Linked DNA regions of Homo sapiens. The protein of the gene in region 1 purifies or fractionates together with the protein of each later gene. This does not show direct contact. Each region holds a gene or a part of one and is shown in the gene's direction. Other genes may lie near its edges. The genes, in order: BRAP and MAP2K1.

Region 1 (4,024 bases):
GAGAAGCAAATAGTTATTGTCTGTTTAAAACTGTAAGCAGTTACTCTCTTAACTCCCTTATTACCTAAACTTGTCTGGCTCCCAGGAACAGCCTTCTAGAGACAGGGAGTATTGGGAGGAAAACGTTACTTAACTATTGACTGAACGTAAATTTAGATAAAATTAAAATGCAGCTTTTTTCCTTATAGGCATTTGTTTTGTTTCAAGTCATCATAAAGTAGGTATTGCATTGCTATCAGTGGATACAGATGCTTAGCTCTTAAAAGAATTTTTTTTGGCCAGACGCAGTGGCTCACGCCTGTAATCCCAGCACTTTGGGAGGTTGAGGGTGGATCACGAGGTCAGGAGATCGAGACCATCTTGGTTAACATGGTGAAAACCCATCTCTACTAAAAATACAAAAAATTAGCTAGGCGTTGTGGTGGGCACCTGTAGTCCCAGCTACTCGGGAGGCTGAGGCAGGAGAATGGCGTGAACCCGGGAGGCGGAGCTTGCAGTGAGCCGAGATTGTGCCACTGCACTCCAGCCTGGGCGACAGAGCGAGACTCTGTCTCAAAAAAAACAAATTAAAAAAAAAAAAAAAGAATTCTTTTTAATGTAAACTGTTGAATATTTGAAATAGCCCACTTCACCTTAATGGGTCTTGTGTATCTTCATTTGTCTTCAAAGAAAAACCATTTGCTACCAAAGTAAATCAGTATTTCGAATGTGCTTCTCTTGTTTTTTGTTTATTAGCTAGTTGCTGTAAGCATTTCCACCAGAACTTGAGCCAAATCATAAGGAAGCTGTTTCTTTTAAAATACAAACCACCACCAAAAAATTAAATGTACATATTAAGCATTTGACTATTTTTATTTTTTTAAAAAGTATAAACACCAAAAAAAAAAAAATTAACATTGTATGAAGATGGAAAACAAGAAGATACACTTTCTGTAACTTTGTCTGAGGATTTAAATTACTAACTTGTGAATCCAATTTAAATTGAACTTAACTACTGGCTTCCCCCACACCCCGCCCCGACCCAGACGGAGTCTTGCTCTGTCGCCCAGGCTGGAGTGCATTGGAGCAGTCTCGGCTCACTGCAGCCTATGCCTCCCAGGTTCAAGTGATTCTCCTGCCTCAGCCTCCTGAGTAGCTGGGATTACAGGTATGCACCACCATGCCCAGCTAATTTTTGTGTTCTTAGTAGAGATGGGGTTTCACCACGTTGGCCAGGCTGGTCTCAAACTCTTGACCTCGTGATCCGCCTGCCTTGGCCTCCCAAAGTGCTGGGATTACGGGTGTGAGCCACCGTGCCAGCCCCAGCTTTCTTACTAGTAAAATTACATGGTTGATTTTAAATGTATACATGTTGACCAATGGCCTCTCAAAAAGCACATTTTAGATACTGGAGTAGAAGGAAAGAAAATGCATCTTCAAACATTTTTTTGGAATCTCACCACATATACTTTGTGAGATTTGTATATTGTAGGGTGTTAGTTTTTGTATTTTTGTATTGTGTATGAGCTTTTTTTTTTTTTTTTTTTTTTTGAGACGGAGTTTCACTCTGTCTCCCAGGCTGGAGTGCAGTGGTGTGATCTCAGCTCACTGCATCCTCTACCTCCTGGGTTCAAGAAATTCTCTGCCTCATCCTCCCAAGTAACTGGGATTACAGGCACCCACGACCACACCCGGCTAATTTTTTGTGTTTTTAGTGGAGACAGGGTTTCACCCTCTTGGCCAGGCTGATCTTGAACTCCTGACCTTGTGATCCACCCGCCTCGGCCTCCCAAAGTGCTGGACTTAACAGGCGTGAGCCACCCCGCCCGGCATCTTTTTTAATGTGACAGTTAAACACATCTTTAAAAGCATAGTCACAGACAAAAGAAGCATACAGTATAAACATTTCCTTGAAAACTCCTACAATATTATATTTGGAGGCAGCTTCAGACTGTTTTATTGGTGGTAACTGCTCGCTGAGCTCTTTTAGTTGGTAATAACTCCAGAGAAGCATCCTGTGTATATTCCTAACACTTGTTCACTAGCATTTAAGTTTAGAATGAGCCCCAAGTAAAACAATGGAAATGTATATAGAACTCTTAGTTCTTACATGATTTAATTATATCAAAATACATGAATTTAACTTACTTTAATGTAGGCAAACTATCAATTTTTGTCCATTTTCCTGTTTGTTAACATACCTCTCCTAGATATTCTTTTCTTGACCCAAATGAAATATTAACCTAAGGTCAAGCTGGGAGAGAGAAACAACTGAGATGAATGTCTTTACTAAAATACCGATAAATTTGTCAAACTCAAAAAAAAATTGACGTGATAAAATTGGGCATCCTTTGTGCTGGCTGCTGCACGAGGCCTCAGTTTTAGAGATTCCTTTCTTAAATGAACGTGGCTTCTTGAGAGATTTCCTGTAAGTATCTACTCTTCAGGGACTGTAGGTTAATGTGCTTTTTCTCTGTCCATAAGTGTGTGCTCCCTGACCTTTGCCTAAGTAATTCTTTCTCGTCTTCTGGCTGGAAGCGTCAAGTCAAGCACTGTCTTAGGAATGCCTTTCCTGACCATCTAGACTGTCATGCCCCCTAATTCACACCCTGTTGTGGCTTCCTGTACTGTTTGCTTTTTAATTTGATTTTTGTCTCTCCCTCCACTAGATTCTAAACTCTGTGGGGGCAGGAGCTGACTGTTTTTTGGACTTAACGTATCTGTTTTTGCTCACCACTGTTCCACACCTAGAACAGTGTCTGTCTGCTGCACATAGCAGGGGCTCAATCTCTATCTGTACAATGAGGGAATAAAGAAAAATCAGTGTTGTTGGTGCTGTCATCACTGAGTAGAAAGTGTTAAGTTATAACTTACTCTATGGAAAAATCCTTCAGGTCCAGCTATTCTTTTGTTCCTTTGTGTTCTATTATAGTCGTAGACACTTAGAGCTTGAGCTAGGAGTCTGGTCACATTTGAGATTTATATGTTAAGGTTTTGACAGCAGTCTCCCTTCCTGGAATGTCAGTTCTGTAAGGGCAGAGATCTTTGTTTTGTTCACCGCTGTACTCCCAGTACCTGGCACAGTGCTGGAACACAGGAGGTACTCCATCCCTGTTTCTTGAATGAATGAATAAATGAATGAAAATATTACCAATTTAAATTACTTGCTTAGAGTAATGATATTGAGGATATCCTGCCAGGAGTCAAAAAAGCAACTAGAAAACTATTATTAAAAGAAGAAAGGCCTGGCACAGTGGCTCATGCCTGTAGTCCCAGCTACTGGGGAGCCTGAGGTGGGCAGATCTCTTGAGCCTGGGAGGTCAAGGCTGTAATGAGCCATGATTGCGCCACTGGGCTCCAGCGTGGGTGACAGAGAGCGAGACCCTGTCTCAGAAAAAAGAAGGAAAAATAAAGTATTGCTGGTAGATGAAGAGTGAGGCTTATGTGAGGTGTTTCCTGTAGGGCGCCAGCCTCCCAGTGATGGACCTGACTGAACTCCCCAAGTGCACGGTGTGTCTGGAGCGCATGGACGAGTCTGTGAATGGCATCCTCACAACGTTATGTAACCACAGCTTCCACAGCCAGTGTCTACAGCGCTGGGACGATACCACGTGAGTGCAGGGGCCGAACCCCTCTGTGTACAAGCCCATTGCAACCCTTCCAGAATTAAAAAGAGCCACCAGCAGAAATGAACCATTCCAAGTATTTGACTTTATTCAAGAGGTCCTTTTTCTCCTTCCCTTTCCTAAGTTCAGGGAATCGGCATTCTGAGACCAAGTCCTTTTTTAGTATGCTGATTCTGAACCCTTGTGGAATTCCCCAAAGCAGCATGAGTTGTTCTTTCCTTCCAAGAGCCAGAGAGTGAAAAAAAAAAGCAAAGCTTAGTTTGAGGCTCTCGTGCTGCAGTGAAATCTAGGTCTGGAATCTCATGTATCAGCTGCACTTGGTGTCTGCCATTCACTCTGGGCTTCTTATCAACTGGGCTACAGCAGCCTAATATTTTAGCTTTGCTGGGCTGTTGATGGCTTGGTGGCCAGTAGAAATA
Region 2 (3,500 bases), on another chromosome or scaffold:
TTTTTTTCATCTGCAAAAATGGGGCTAATGATAGAACCTACTTAGCATAGTTGTGAAGATTAAATGAGGTAGTACATAGTAAACTTCCAAAGCTGTTGGCTGCTGGTGCCTTTGTTACTGCCTAAGTGTTGGACCAAAGGAAACTGGAAGGTGATTTTCATTCATGGTGGTAGATTATGTGTTAAGGTGCCTTTGCTTCTGGACAATCAACTCTCCCTAGTTTGGTTTTTTGTACCATCTGCATCTACCTCTATGACTCATTGCTGTGTTACAATAGGAGGCATCTTTGTGTAGGCTGCCCAAGACAAACAGGGACTGTTTCCCTGTGTTTCATAGCACTAATGAGAGGGAAAGCTGTACACATCTTCATCTTTCACTTCTGAGAGTGTTCCTCAAGCAAAATGTTCCCTATCTTGGGCTACCAGCAGAAAGAATTCTGTTGCTTTCATGATTTCTGTGATTAGACCAGGGCACAATTTTGAACGTTATCAGACAATGTGAACTAAAGAGGAAGAAAATCCATTTTGACAGTAAAGAACTCTTGGTACCAAATTGGCAAGGTTGCTTTTCCCTTGGCACCTGTGCTTACCTCTAACATAGCCCTTACCCAGTTCAGAGATGGAGTTGGGTAATACGGGACCTGAAGTTGATGCAAGTTGTAGGGGTCCTCAAAGAAAAATCATGCAAAAATAGCTTTCTTTTGTGTATTTTGCAGAAACATGTGAGCATATTACTAGGGTCTTAAGTGTTAGAATGAGATAATGAGATAATATTGTTCCTCTGTTTAAAATGTTCTTCTGGTTCTATTGCAGTTACACAAAATCCAAACTCCTTATATTGGACTATGAGACTGAGTGATCTGCCTGTTGTCCCCACCACCCCCTCCCACCAATCTCTTTAACCACATTTCCTGCCACTCCTTTCTTCCACCACACTAGTCCTCTTTCACTTCCTCTATGGGATGGTCTATACGCACTGCAGGCCTCTGTACATGCTGTTCCCTTTGCCTGGAATGAATCACTCCTCCTTCCCTAGGTAGGCAGGAAGCAGTCTTCACCTATTTGCCTAAATGTCACTTCCTCTGAGATGTTTATAAGCATCTCAGAGGAATGTGGTCCCTCTTTGTCATGTCACCTGAGCTGCTGCTTTTTTTTTTTTTTTTGGTATGGGGGTCTTGGTATGTTGCCCAGGCTGGTTCTTGAACTCCTGGACTCCAGTGATTCTACCACCTCAGCCTCTTGAGTAGCTGGGACTATAGGTGGGTACTACTGTGCCTGGCGCTCACCTGAGCTTTTAATAAGACTTAATCATTGTAATTTTTCATTGGGGTGTTCTTAATATTTATCTCTCCTGTACACTATAAACTTTAAGCACAGCACTGCCTTTTTGTTTTTTGAGACGGAGTCTCGCTCTATCGCCCAGGCTGGAATGCAGTGGCACTACCTCGGCTCACTGCAAGCTCCGCCTCCCAGGTTCATGCCATTCTCCTGCCTCAGCCTCCCAAGTAGCTGGGACTACAGGCGCCCACCACTGCGTCCAGCTAATTTTTTGTATTTTTAGTAGAGATGGGGTTTCACCATGTTAGCCAGGATGGTCTCGATCTCCTGATCTCGTGATCCCAAAGTGCTGGGATTACAGGCGTGAGCCACTGTGCCCAGCCTGCACTGCCTTTTTTTGACTCACCACTCTGTAAGTACACCCAAAATAGTTCTGGCACATAATAGGTCCATAGATGTTTGTTGAGTCAGTGAGTGAATGAAATTTCTAATATTTGCACAACGGGTTTAATAAACCTTTTTATGTCTTTTCCTTTTCTTTTCCCCTTTATGCTCATTCCTTTTTTCCCCATTTTCTTTTGTTTTAGTCACCCACTCAACCATTCTAAGATATTTATATGGTTTTATAATTCCACCTGTTAGTCTGGTTATGTGTATACCCTTGGGAAGTAGAAGGATGGTTTTGTATGTATCTGCTTAGGATTCTAAAATGTTATTGTGCTACAAATCTGCATTTCATAGACAGGATAGAATAGGTTATGTTGAGGTAACAACCACAAAATCTCAGTAATTTAACACACTTTCAGGTCAGTGGGAGGCTCTGTAGATTGGAGTCCTTTAGGGATCCAGGCTGATCGAGGCATCGTCTCTCAAGTATACCTACATGAGGAGGGAATCTTGTGAAGAGCTACATTCAGGCTCTTAAAGTTTTGCCTAGAGGTGAGCCTTGTCATTTTTGCTGCCATTTCTTTGGCCAGAGCAAATCATGTGGCCATGTTGACCTTCAAGGAGGGCAGTGACCTTTTTGGAAGGGGGAGAACCACGAATATTTGTGTGTTTTTTTTGGGTTTTTTTTTTTTTTTTTTTTTTTTAAGAAAGGGTTTCGCTCCCACTGCCCAGGCTGGAGTATAATGGTGCGTGCCACCACGCCCTGCTAAGTTTTGATTGTTTTGTAGAGATGGGGTTTCACCATGTTGCTCAGGCTGGTCTTGAACTCTTGGGCTCAAGCGATCTGCCCACCTCATCTTCCCAAAGTGCTGAAATTATAGGTATGAGCCACTGTGCTGGTGCACCAGGAGTATTTGAACAGAAGCAATGACCATCCCTAAATTTTATATCAGTTTCTTCTTTGTTTTCTTTTCTTTTCTTTTTTTTTTTTTTTTGAGATGGAGTTTTGCTCTTGTTGCCCAGGCTGGAGTGCAATGGCATGATCTCGGCTCACCGCAACCTCCGCCCCCCAGGTTCAAGCTATTCTCCTGCCTCAGCCTCCTGAGTAGCTGGGATTACAGGCATGTGCCACCGTGCCTGGCTAATTTTGTATTTTTAGTAGAGACAGGGTTTCACCATGTTGGTCAGGCTGGTCTCGAACTCCTGACCTCAGATGATCCGCCTGCCTCAGCCTCCCAAAGTGTTGGGCTTACAGGCGTGAGCCACCATGCCTGGCCTTAGTTTCTTTTTTTAACCAATTTTGTTTTGAGCTCTATTCATGATGCTATACAATATGTGTCTAGTTCATTATTTCTCTTGGTTGTAGAGCAGTCATGTTTGCCTGCCACATTTTACTTATTTATTTCTCTAGAATTAGACATCTTTGTTGTTTCCCAACCCCTTGCTGCCTCAAACAGTCATGACCATGCCCATCCTTGCACATCCTTGTCTCCTTTGGATGTTGTGAGAGAGTTTCCTGTGGAATGTACTCAGAAGTGGAATTGCTGGGTCTTAGGGTACATTGTCTCTCCTTCCAGGATAAGGCATGTTATCTCTTTCTCTCTCTCTTTTTTTTTTTTTGAGACCGAGTCTCACTCTGTTGCCCAGGCTGGAGTGCAGTGTTGCAATCCTGGCTCACTGCAACCCCTCCCCACAAGGTTCAAGCAATTCTCCTGCCTTAGCCTCCTGAGTAGCTGGGATTACAGGTGCCTGACACCATGCCCAGCTAATTTTTATATTTTTAGTAGAGACAGGGTTTCATTATATTGCTCAGGCTGGTCTCCAAGTCCTGACCTT

Evidence for each region.
Region 2: the proteins of BRAP (region 1) and MAP2K1 purify together in Homo sapiens (affinity purification with western blotting, with the first as the bait; one study listed by BioGRID). This does not show direct contact.

The regions. Positions count from the first base shown.
Region 1 is NC_000012.12:111,665,205-111,669,228, reverse strand, and holds part of BRAP (BRCA1-associated protein), read left to right. Parts: intron 1-11; exon of another isoform or gene 12-271; intron 272-589; exon of another isoform or gene 590-994; intron 995-1,301; exon of another isoform or gene 1,302-1,509; intron 1,510-1,813; exon of another isoform or gene 1,814-2,298; intron 2,299-3,441; coding exon 3,442-3,590; intron 3,591-4,024. UniProt on the Homo sapiens protein: Negatively regulates MAP kinase activation by limiting the formation of Raf/MEK complexes probably by inactivation of the KSR1 scaffold protein.
Region 2 is NC_000015.10:66,389,912-66,393,411, forward strand, and holds part of MAP2K1 (dual specificity mitogen-activated protein kinase kinase 1), read left to right. Parts: intron 1-3,500. UniProt on the Homo sapiens protein: Dual specificity protein kinase which acts as an essential component of the MAP kinase signal transduction pathway.